2 separate regions of the Homo sapiens genome follow, and region 1 is linked to region 2. Evidence: fine-mapped expression QTL. A gene starts in region 2. The other region holds a variant in brackets. All regions are shown on one strand. Distances are between the middles of the regions. Region 1 overlaps RUNX3 (RUNX family transcription factor 3). Region 2 holds the start of RUNX3 (RUNX family transcription factor 3).

The links.
Region 1: its variant is fine-mapped to the expression of RUNX3 in testis (GTEx, PIP above 0.99).

Annotation. Positions count from the first base shown.
Region 1 is chr1:24,902,684-24,907,030 of GRCh38, reverse strand. The region is part of intron 4 of RUNX3 (RUNX family transcription factor 3); the gene reads left to right. Among named protein-coding and RNA genes, the nearest start is that of MIR6731, 15 kb to the left of the region's middle. The variant C/A (reference allele first, on the strand shown) is at 1,960.
Region 2 is chr1:24,927,883-24,932,255 of GRCh38, reverse strand. RUNX3 (RUNX family transcription factor 3) reads left to right here and starts at 1,980. Exons shown (of 5, transcript NM_004350.3): 1 at 1,980-2,669. The coding sequence starts at 2,388. It overlaps RUNX3-AS1 (RUNX3 antisense RNA 1), which reads right to left and starts at 1,799. Exons shown (of 4, transcript NR_183341.1): 1 at 230-1,799. RefSeq lists enhancers at 277-866, 2,306-3,039, 3,212-3,391, 3,040-3,774 and silencers at 1,632-2,101, 2,302-2,741.

The DNA of each region.
Region 1 (4,347 bases), 25 kb after region 2:
CTGGTGCCTGGCCCCAGGGATCTGCATACCAGGAGTTCACTGTGCCTGGGGAAATGGGGTTAACCCCATAGTGCCCCTATTAAAATTGGGGCATGACTTGTCCAAGGAGCCGTGACAGACTCGCCCCTGCCATGTACAGTTTCCCCACCCCTGCCCCACAGCCTGCGATTTTTCATCTGAAAGTGGATTGGGGCGGATGCCTCCACCCAGGGCTGGGATGACATTCAAATGACATTACTGTACTCACACAAACTTTGCACACTGTTAAGTGACATTCCAACCCTAGAGAGGCACATAGCATTCCTGGGAAAGGTCTCCCACCCTGCCCAGAGCATCCTCCCAAACAGGAGGAGCTGAGGTGGAAGGGAAGACCGAGCTGGGGTCTCCATCTCCACTGCCTAGACGGATACAGCAAGCACAGTTGCAGCCAGGCCTCAGGCAGGTCTTCTGGAGTATCGAGGTGCCTGGCGCATAGTAGCCGCTCACTAAACGGCTGCCGGCTGCATCTCTCCTCTGTTCTCTCAGTCAGTGAGCTGGGGACATGGGAGGCTGTGTGCACAGCCGGCCCTTGGGCTAAGTGGGGTGCCAAGGGTGCTTGGTGGCCGGGTGGACAGAGGCAGGCAGCTGGCTGCCGTCACGGACTGTGCCCATTCTTTCTCAATTCCCCAGAGCCTGGTTAGAACCCCTTGGCAGATGAATGAATTGAGAGGCCTAAGAGGTTCAGAGCCACCCTCGGGTCACACAGCCCATCTGTGACCAGGTCCACAGTCTCCACAGTACCTGCTCCCAAGAACTTTCTGTACTTCTGAGGGGACAGATAAAGGGGCCTGGAACAGGGCTGCCAACCGGTCTGCCTGCCCCACCCCCTTTTCCGGTGCCACGCTGAGGTGGGGGCCGACTGGGTCTCTCTACTGACATTGTTCCAGGCATAGTGCTGCAGCCAGGGGCTGGATGCAGGCCTTCAGTGTGAAGAGAGGACCCCTCCCCTTCTGGCCTGGGCTCAGGACTTTTGGCCTTGGTCCTGCTGAGACGCCAAGGTTGGGAGAAGCCCCAGGCCCAGCCTCTCTGAGCCCAGGAGCTAGTGCATTTGAGACTCTCAGCTCTCGAGCCCAGGAGTTGGAGGTCTGCTCTCAAGAGGTAGCGGAAGGAGCCCTGCACGCTGTGCTCACGCCCACCCCTGCCGCGTAGCTGCCTCTGCTTCTGCTACCCATGGGCCAGCATCTGTCGAGGTGCAGTAGCCTGAGAGCCAGCCTTTCTCTGCCATGGACAGAGCCAGGCCAGGGGATCGGGGCTCAGCGGGGGAGCCAGAATCCAGGAGGTGGGGTGAACAGTGGCTTCCTGTCCACCAGCCCCCATGGAAGGAGAGCCCACATCTGCCCATCCACTGCTGGGTGGGCACAGCTTGGGAATCAATGCCTGGCCCCACGGCAGGCACAGCTGCTGCTTCCATCCTGGGCTGGGAGGAAAGGAGCCCAGCCTGTGTGGGGCAGTGGCTGACTTCTGCTTCTCTGCCTGCTCCCTCCTGAGGCCTGGCCCAGTCCCTCGCTAGCCCCCCACAGCACTGGGCCACAGGCAGCCAGGCATCTCCATCCTCAGGCCCATCCCCTTTGGGTGAGAGAAAGGGCCTCGGATGACCAGGACAGGGCGAGCATGAACTCTGCAGTCAGCTGGACCAGGCTAGGAATTCAGGCTCTGCCAGGCATTGGCTGTATGATCTTAGACAAGTCACTTAAACTCAGCCTCAGTTTTCTCATCTGTGAAGTGGGGAGAAGGAGGTCCCTGACAAAGAGGGGTTGCTGGCAGACCTAGGCTTGGGAAGTCACTCTCACAGGCCCTCCTCCCTCTGCCCTCGGACTCCCTCCTGGGGATCCCCCTTGGGACACCCCACCACCACTTCCCTCGGTGCCTGTTAAGTGCTTTGACCCTCCAATATTGGTCACTGGCAAGCAGTGCAGAGAC[C/A]CCAGCACCTCCCATACCCCAGCCCCAGCCCCCAGCCGCAGCCGCCCACAATGGGGGCTTCTCACAGCTGAAAGGGCTCATTCAGCCACCATGCAGCAGCCCGGACAATCTGGAGAAGAAAATAAACATTTCTTTCCACTGTTGGGATTGGCCACTCGACAGTGCCCCGGGCAGCTCGGGTTTCCTGGGGCTGCGAGGCCGCAGGGTGGGGGTACAGGAGCTCCAAGGAAGCTGCTGGGGGGTCTGAGGGAGTGCTGAGGGCAGGTACTTCCCCCACCACCCCGGAGGAGGGGTGGTGGCCCTGAGGAAAGAGGCTGGAGGGGATGGTGGCAGGTCCAGGGAGGCCCAGCCCAGCGCCCTGCAGCCCGCGTGAGCTCTGAGGGGCACAGTCCTGCCGTTGTATCCTGCGGTCCCCATTTGTTTCCTTCGTCTTGAGAATGGGGTTCCCATCAGGCGGCCAGCACCCACTTCCACCCCACCCATCTCAGCTGTGCTGACGTGCCCAGCACCTGCAACAGGACCTCTCCCCCCGAGGGGCTCCCCAGATGAAAACTGGCAGCCAGGTGCCTCGGAGGCTCTCGGCCTCAAGGGGCCGGGACAGCCAAGTGACCTACTAGGGAACATCCCAGATGTCCCAGAAGGCCCCCGCCACCCAGACTGCTGTCCCCACATCTTCTTACCTTAAGCCAGGAGCATCACTCCGTTCGGATCCACGCCCAGGGCCAGAGTACGCTGCTGAGGGAAACATACCCCAGCTGACTTGGGAAGACCCCAAAGCCCCGAGAAGTTCCAAGTCCCAGCCGAAGTCACACACACCTCAGGCTCATAGCTCTCCGTCCTCAGCCAAGCCTCGGCGTGGCAGGCAGAGCCCACTCCGGCTAGCACCGGCCCTTATCCTTTGGTGGGTGACACAGAGGGGTTGCTGGGCTGGACAGACTGCACCTCTGGACCACTGCTGGGGGCTCATCCACCTCCCCCGGCTGCCAGAGTAGAAGGGAGGCCCTGCACCAGGGCCTCAACTTGGCAGGGCCCTGAATGAGCCAGTTCTCCTGGGTACCCAGAGTAAGAGACACCACAGCCACAGTGGCCTTGCAAAGCCTCATGGACCCCTGCTCTGTGCCCAGTGCCATTCTAAGTACTCGATGTGAATTAACTGAATCCTGATGAACTGTTATCGTCTCATGTTTTATATGGGGAAACTGATGCGCAGAGAGGTTAAGTGACTTGCCCAAGGACACAAAGCTAGTAAGTGTCCAAACCAGGATAACTGTCCGGCTCCAGAAGCCACACAGTAAGCCTTGATCCTGTGCTGCCTCAAAGACGGGACAGCTCCCTCTCAAGTACGTGTTGGGGCTCAGGACCAGAGGCCCTAGGATTGTGTGCCAGGTCCAATGTGCTGTGTGACCCTGAGGGAAGTGCCTCACCCTGTCTGGGCCTCAGTTTCCCCATCAAGGGTGTTAGACTCAATCCCTGAGCCCCTTTGAATGCTGAGGTTTTGGGGGTCTGTGATGACAAAAGTTGGGGACAGAGGATGGAACACCCTTGCCTTGGAGCCCATTGAGAAGCCACATTCCTGGGGGAGCAGGGGCAGAGTCTGGGCTGGACACTGTGACCAGGTTGGGGTCTGGGTCCCCAAGTTTGTCTGACTGCTGTCTCACTTTGCTGCCAAGGCAGGTTAGGGTGGCATCCAGTCACTGTGTGGCCACGAGTCGGCTCCAGAGACACAGGCCCAGGGTGAGGTGGAGGCCAGAGCTCCTGTGAACTCAGTGCCCACAACCCAGGTGTGAGCGCACAGAACCTCCGCGTGCTGCACCTGGGCAGGAGAGGCACGTGTGTCCCCAGCAGAGGCCTTGTGATGAGAACCAGTCCTTTCTCTGCCACAGAGACTCAGTCTTGCTCTCTCTCTGCCTCCATTTTCTTGTCTTCAAAAGCGGGTTCCAACTCCCAGTCTCACACGGTCATTGGAGCCCTTTACACATCCACGGCCTTCCCAGCTGTTAACATGGGCCGGTGGGGAGAGGAACCTGCCTGGGCAGGGCTGCTGGGAGGCCTGAGCTGACTCTGCCCTCAGCCCCACCACCGCATCCTAGGCCTCTCCTCTGCGAGGCTGGGAAGGAGGATTTAAAAAGAAGAATAGACCCCCTCCTCTGTTCTGTTGCTGCTGTGGGGGGGCTCCCATGGCCCCTCTTGGCCCGGGGCACGCTCCAACCAGCTTCCCGGCAGGTCTGTGTTCGGAGTCCTGGCGGGGGAGGCCCCGGGCAGCCTAGGGCAGGAAGAGGAGAGCCAGGTCTAGAACTAGGGGTCCCCCAGATGGGCCTTGGGAACCAGAGCCCAAGGTCATTCTTCAGGAAGCCCTCCTGGGGTTGTCTCGAGCTGGAACTGACCTCT
Region 2 (4,373 bases):
GCCCTGCGCCAGGTGCCAGGGCCCACAAGAGTCCCTCATTCTCTGGAAACTTGTCTGTGAACCCATCGTAAGCGGAGAGGGAGAAATCAGGCGGAGGAACAAGCAAAGGGCACGGTGCAAACCGAAACCATTCGACAAATGGAATTTACCACCACCTGAAACAGCGGGTCATGGTCCCGCAACCTGCTCGAGGGCAGCACGTGTTGCCCGCCCCCGGCCAGGGCCCTACCTGGCCACGACGCGCTGCGCCTTCTCGGAGACGTTCCCGGAGGTGGGAGCGCCCAGGCTGGATCACTCGCTTTCCTCTAGTTCTGCTGCTCGTGCCAGCGCGTCCGAGGGCGCGCGGGCCTGGGTCCGCAATCGACAACTGCCAGGCGCAGGCTCTCTTAAAAGGTTCAGTAAGGGACCTTTGCCGTCCTTCCTTTCGACACGGCCTGAGGGCGTGCTGTGAGGTCCCGAGGTGGGTAGGGGCCAGCTCTCCCGGTGGTCGGGGTGAGTCCAGAGTCCTTCGCCCCTGGAGCGCACGCGGGGCTTGATTTCGTTTGGCAACGACGAAATGGCGCGCGCTGAGCAGGGGTCAGATCCATGATGAGATCTTGCGGCCACCGTCGGATCCTAAGCTTCTTTGCTTCCGAGGCTTGGAATTCATTGTTTTGCACCTGTCGAGAGCCGGAGGCAACGAAAATCTAGCCCCGTCTCCAAAGCGGCGGGGAGGCTCAGCACGCGTTCGTTCCCCAGAGTCTAGGGAGGTGTCTGGGGCGATAATTCGGAATGATTGTGGCTTGATCTTTCCCGTTGCCCTCCCAACTGTAGCCGGCCCCTAGGTCTGCTCGACAGACTTAGGAGGCGGGAGAGGAAGGGGTGATTTGCAGTGAAGCCCAGGAGAGGTTGGGCCACGCGGCTGGGAGTGGGAGCGGGGACCCGGAGCCGGGCGGGCAGGCAGTGCCTTGGCGAAGCTGTCCGCGGTCCCTGCGGCGCAGCCGGAGCGCACGGGCCCAAGAAGAAGTGGGGTTGGACCCGCAGAGGCCACTTTCCACCCGCATGGAGAAAGAAAATTCTCTCCTCTGAAAGCGAGGGCCCTTAGCTTTGCAGCCACTGCTGTTTTTCTTTTGCCACCGACGCGCGTACCGTTTCACGATGCAGGACCGTGGTTACATGCGTAAAGGAAAAAAAGAAAAACGCATTTTGCAGGCCTCGTCGTGTTTTTCAAAGAGCCACAGGCCGCCACAACGAAGAACGACGCCGCGAGGCCTGCAAGATCCTGAAACTTGTTTTGAGGGGAGAGCAGAGAGGAAAGGGGTTGTTGGCCCCAGGCTACTTAGGGTCCCTAGGAGACTCCCTTCCGCCTGTCCCCGGTTTGGCACAGGGGCCACCGAGGCTGGGACCAAAGCCGCGCAGGGCTGGGAGCAGCAAAGGCCGCCGGCCGGGCGTGGACGACGCGCAAAATCCCGTGTGGGGTGGAGGCTCTTGGGTCAGAATAATGTGCGGGACGAGGGAGGTGAGTAACCTCTTTGGGGCGGCTCCCAGTGCGGCGTCACCGGCCCTGAGACCCCGCGGCCCCCAGCCCGGGGTTGCAGAAGTCACAGGCCCGAAGCAGCAAGAGCTGGGGAAGCCCGGCCGCGGCCAGCGGGGAGGAGGAGCGAAGGGGTTGCGCCCCAGCGTCAGGGAGCTACGACCCGAGAGAGGGCGGCAAGGGCGCCTTCCGTGGGACCCGGACGTTCTAAGCAAATTTCTAGCATTTGCCCCGGGCTCCCAGAGCTCTCGGGGGCCCTGGGCTGTGGCACTGGGGCCTCCTCCGCGGGGTGGCGCCTTCCGCCCCTCCCCGTTGGGCGGCCTCCGGCAGGCCCCGTTCCTCCCCGCGAACGCCACCGAGGTGCCCGCGATGGGGGCTCCGCCGATTGGCTGTGCGACGCGTCGCTCCGCCAGCCCCGCCCCGCGGGCCCCGGGGGTACTAACCCCGCGCGGGCGGCCGCGGCCCCGCCACTTGATTCTGGAGGATTTGTTCTGGGGCTGCGGCCGCGGAGTCGGGGCGGCCGCGGGCGAGCTTCGGGGCGGGAGGCGGCGGCAGCGGCACAGCCCCGCGCGGGCCCCGCCGCGGCCCAGGCAGCCGGGACAGCCACGAGGGGCGGCCGCACGCGGGGCCGCGCGCCGAGGATGCGGGACTAGCCGGGCAGGCTGCGGGCGGCCGTCGGGCCAGCGAGGCCTCGCAGCGGGCGGGCCCTGGCGAGTAGTGGCCGGGCGCCGCCCCCTGCGCCCTGAGGCCCGGGCCCCGCCGCTTCTGCTTTCCCGCTTCTCGCGGCAGCGGCGGCCGAGGAGGCGCCCGCGCCGGCCGCCCCCGGGGGAAGCCGCGCCGTCTCCGCCTGCCCGGCGCCCTGACGGCCGCTGTTATGCGTATTCCCGTAGACCCAAGCACCAGCCGCCGCTTCACACCTCCCTCCCCGGCCTTCCCCTGCGGCGGCGGCGGCGGCAAGATGGGCGAGAACAGCGGCGCGCTGAGCGCGCAGGCGGCCGTGGGGCCCGGAGGGCGCGCCCGGCCCGAGGTGCGCTCGATGGTGGACGTGCTGGCGGACCACGCAGGCGAGCTCGTGCGCACCGACAGCCCCAACTTCCTCTGCTCCGTGCTGCCCTCGCACTGGCGCTGCAACAAGACGCTGCCCGTCGCCTTCAAGGTGAGTGCGGGACCCGGGGCGGGAGGGCGCCGGCCCTGGGGCTCCGGGCGTCTGAGCTGCGGGAGCCAGAGCCTCGGGAGCAGTGGGGATGGGAGGTGCCCGAGACGCCGCGGCGACACCCGGGCACCCGGTTCAGTCTGGCTGCGCGCTCGGCTCCGGGACCTCGGCGTTCCGTTTTGGATGCGCCCTGCAGGAATGACTTTTAACGGGGTTGCCCCGCTCCACCTGGGTTTTGGGGCGCCTTGCGTAGAGACGTTGGTGCGGAAATGGGCGGATGGGGTTTTGCGCCCCCCTAACCCGGATCGCTCAGATACAGCCCTGCGGGTAACGGAGAAGAGGATCCCGGGACAGGGGCAAGGACACCGCGGGTGGGGTGCGAACGGTGAAAGGGCCTACCCTCCGCCTCCAGCACCCCTCCTCCCGCGCCGCTTCGCAAAAGCTTCCTGCTCACACCCTCGGGCTTCCGAAATTTTACCGGACGGCGCTAGGCCGGGATCGGGGCACTGCTCTCCAGACGTTTGCTCGGGGATATTATGCGTCCCGAATGGCGAGTTGAGATTGGGGGACCCCTAACCCTGGCAGCCCCCAGCCATTTAGAGGACCTTTTTCTTTATGCCAGGGAGTAGGCGACTGTTTCATTTTCATTTTTTTAAGGGGGCAGCGAGATGAAACGAAAACGCCTCGGTTTTCCCCTAAACCTCTCACAGCTGCCGTGAGAAAAGGGCAGGGCAGGAAGGGCCGGCGGCTGGGGGTGGTGCTGCCCGAGGTGGCTGGAAGCTGAGGCCGTCCCTGCTCCCATTAAGACGACTCTAAATGGGAAAAAAAGGAAGAGTGGCTCTTTGAGGTCTCCCGGGTGACATCTTAAAATACCAGTGGGGGAAATCTCGCCGGGAGGGGCGGGAGGCCCGTGTGACTTTAATCGTCAGATCGGAGGTTTTACTGTCACTTGGAGCTTAAAAGGAGTCTTTGAAATTAAAAGAAGACAGGATGTTGACAGGAAATCTGGTCTTCTTAATCAGATCCCAAACATTTTCTCCTTGAAATTTTTACCATATGGATCCCCAGTCCCTGCACGCGGCGGCCACGTTTAAATAGTTGTGACTCTGTTTAAAGTCTGATTCTTTTTCAAAAGGCATCCGCCTCTCCGTGCTCCTGGGGGTGGGGGATTTGGGGGAGATGGTGTTTAGGGGGACATCGCCACCCCCATCCTGCAATTCCCGGCAGGTGCATCCTTCCATTATCAAAAGCCCCACTCTCACTTTAAAGGGGTTTTCTGGTGGCCTTTTTCAAAACACCAGTGAGTTTTGCATTCTGCATTTTCTCTGCATAACGAATTTAGGCTCTGCAGAGGCCAATAAACTGGGCCTGGTCCACATTTCAGGGCCAAATTTCATGCCCTAAACAGCTCTTGCATAAATTGAGTGGGGGTAGCAGCCCTGTTGTTATTATTGTTGTTACTCTTTCTCATTTGGAGACTTCGTTGCTAGGAGCATGTTGATTCCTCTTTCGCTGCAGCCGAAGACAACAGGGGAACTGCACCCCACATCATAGTGACTGAGCTGATTCACAGCTCTGGCTTAGATTTCATTGAAAGGATGATTTCTTGGGACACAGTTTATGTAAGCAGTTGATCTAGGATTTTGGTGTGGAAGCTCGAGATTCCATCTTCTTGTTTTCGTGATATTTGGGGGAAGGTCTTTATTG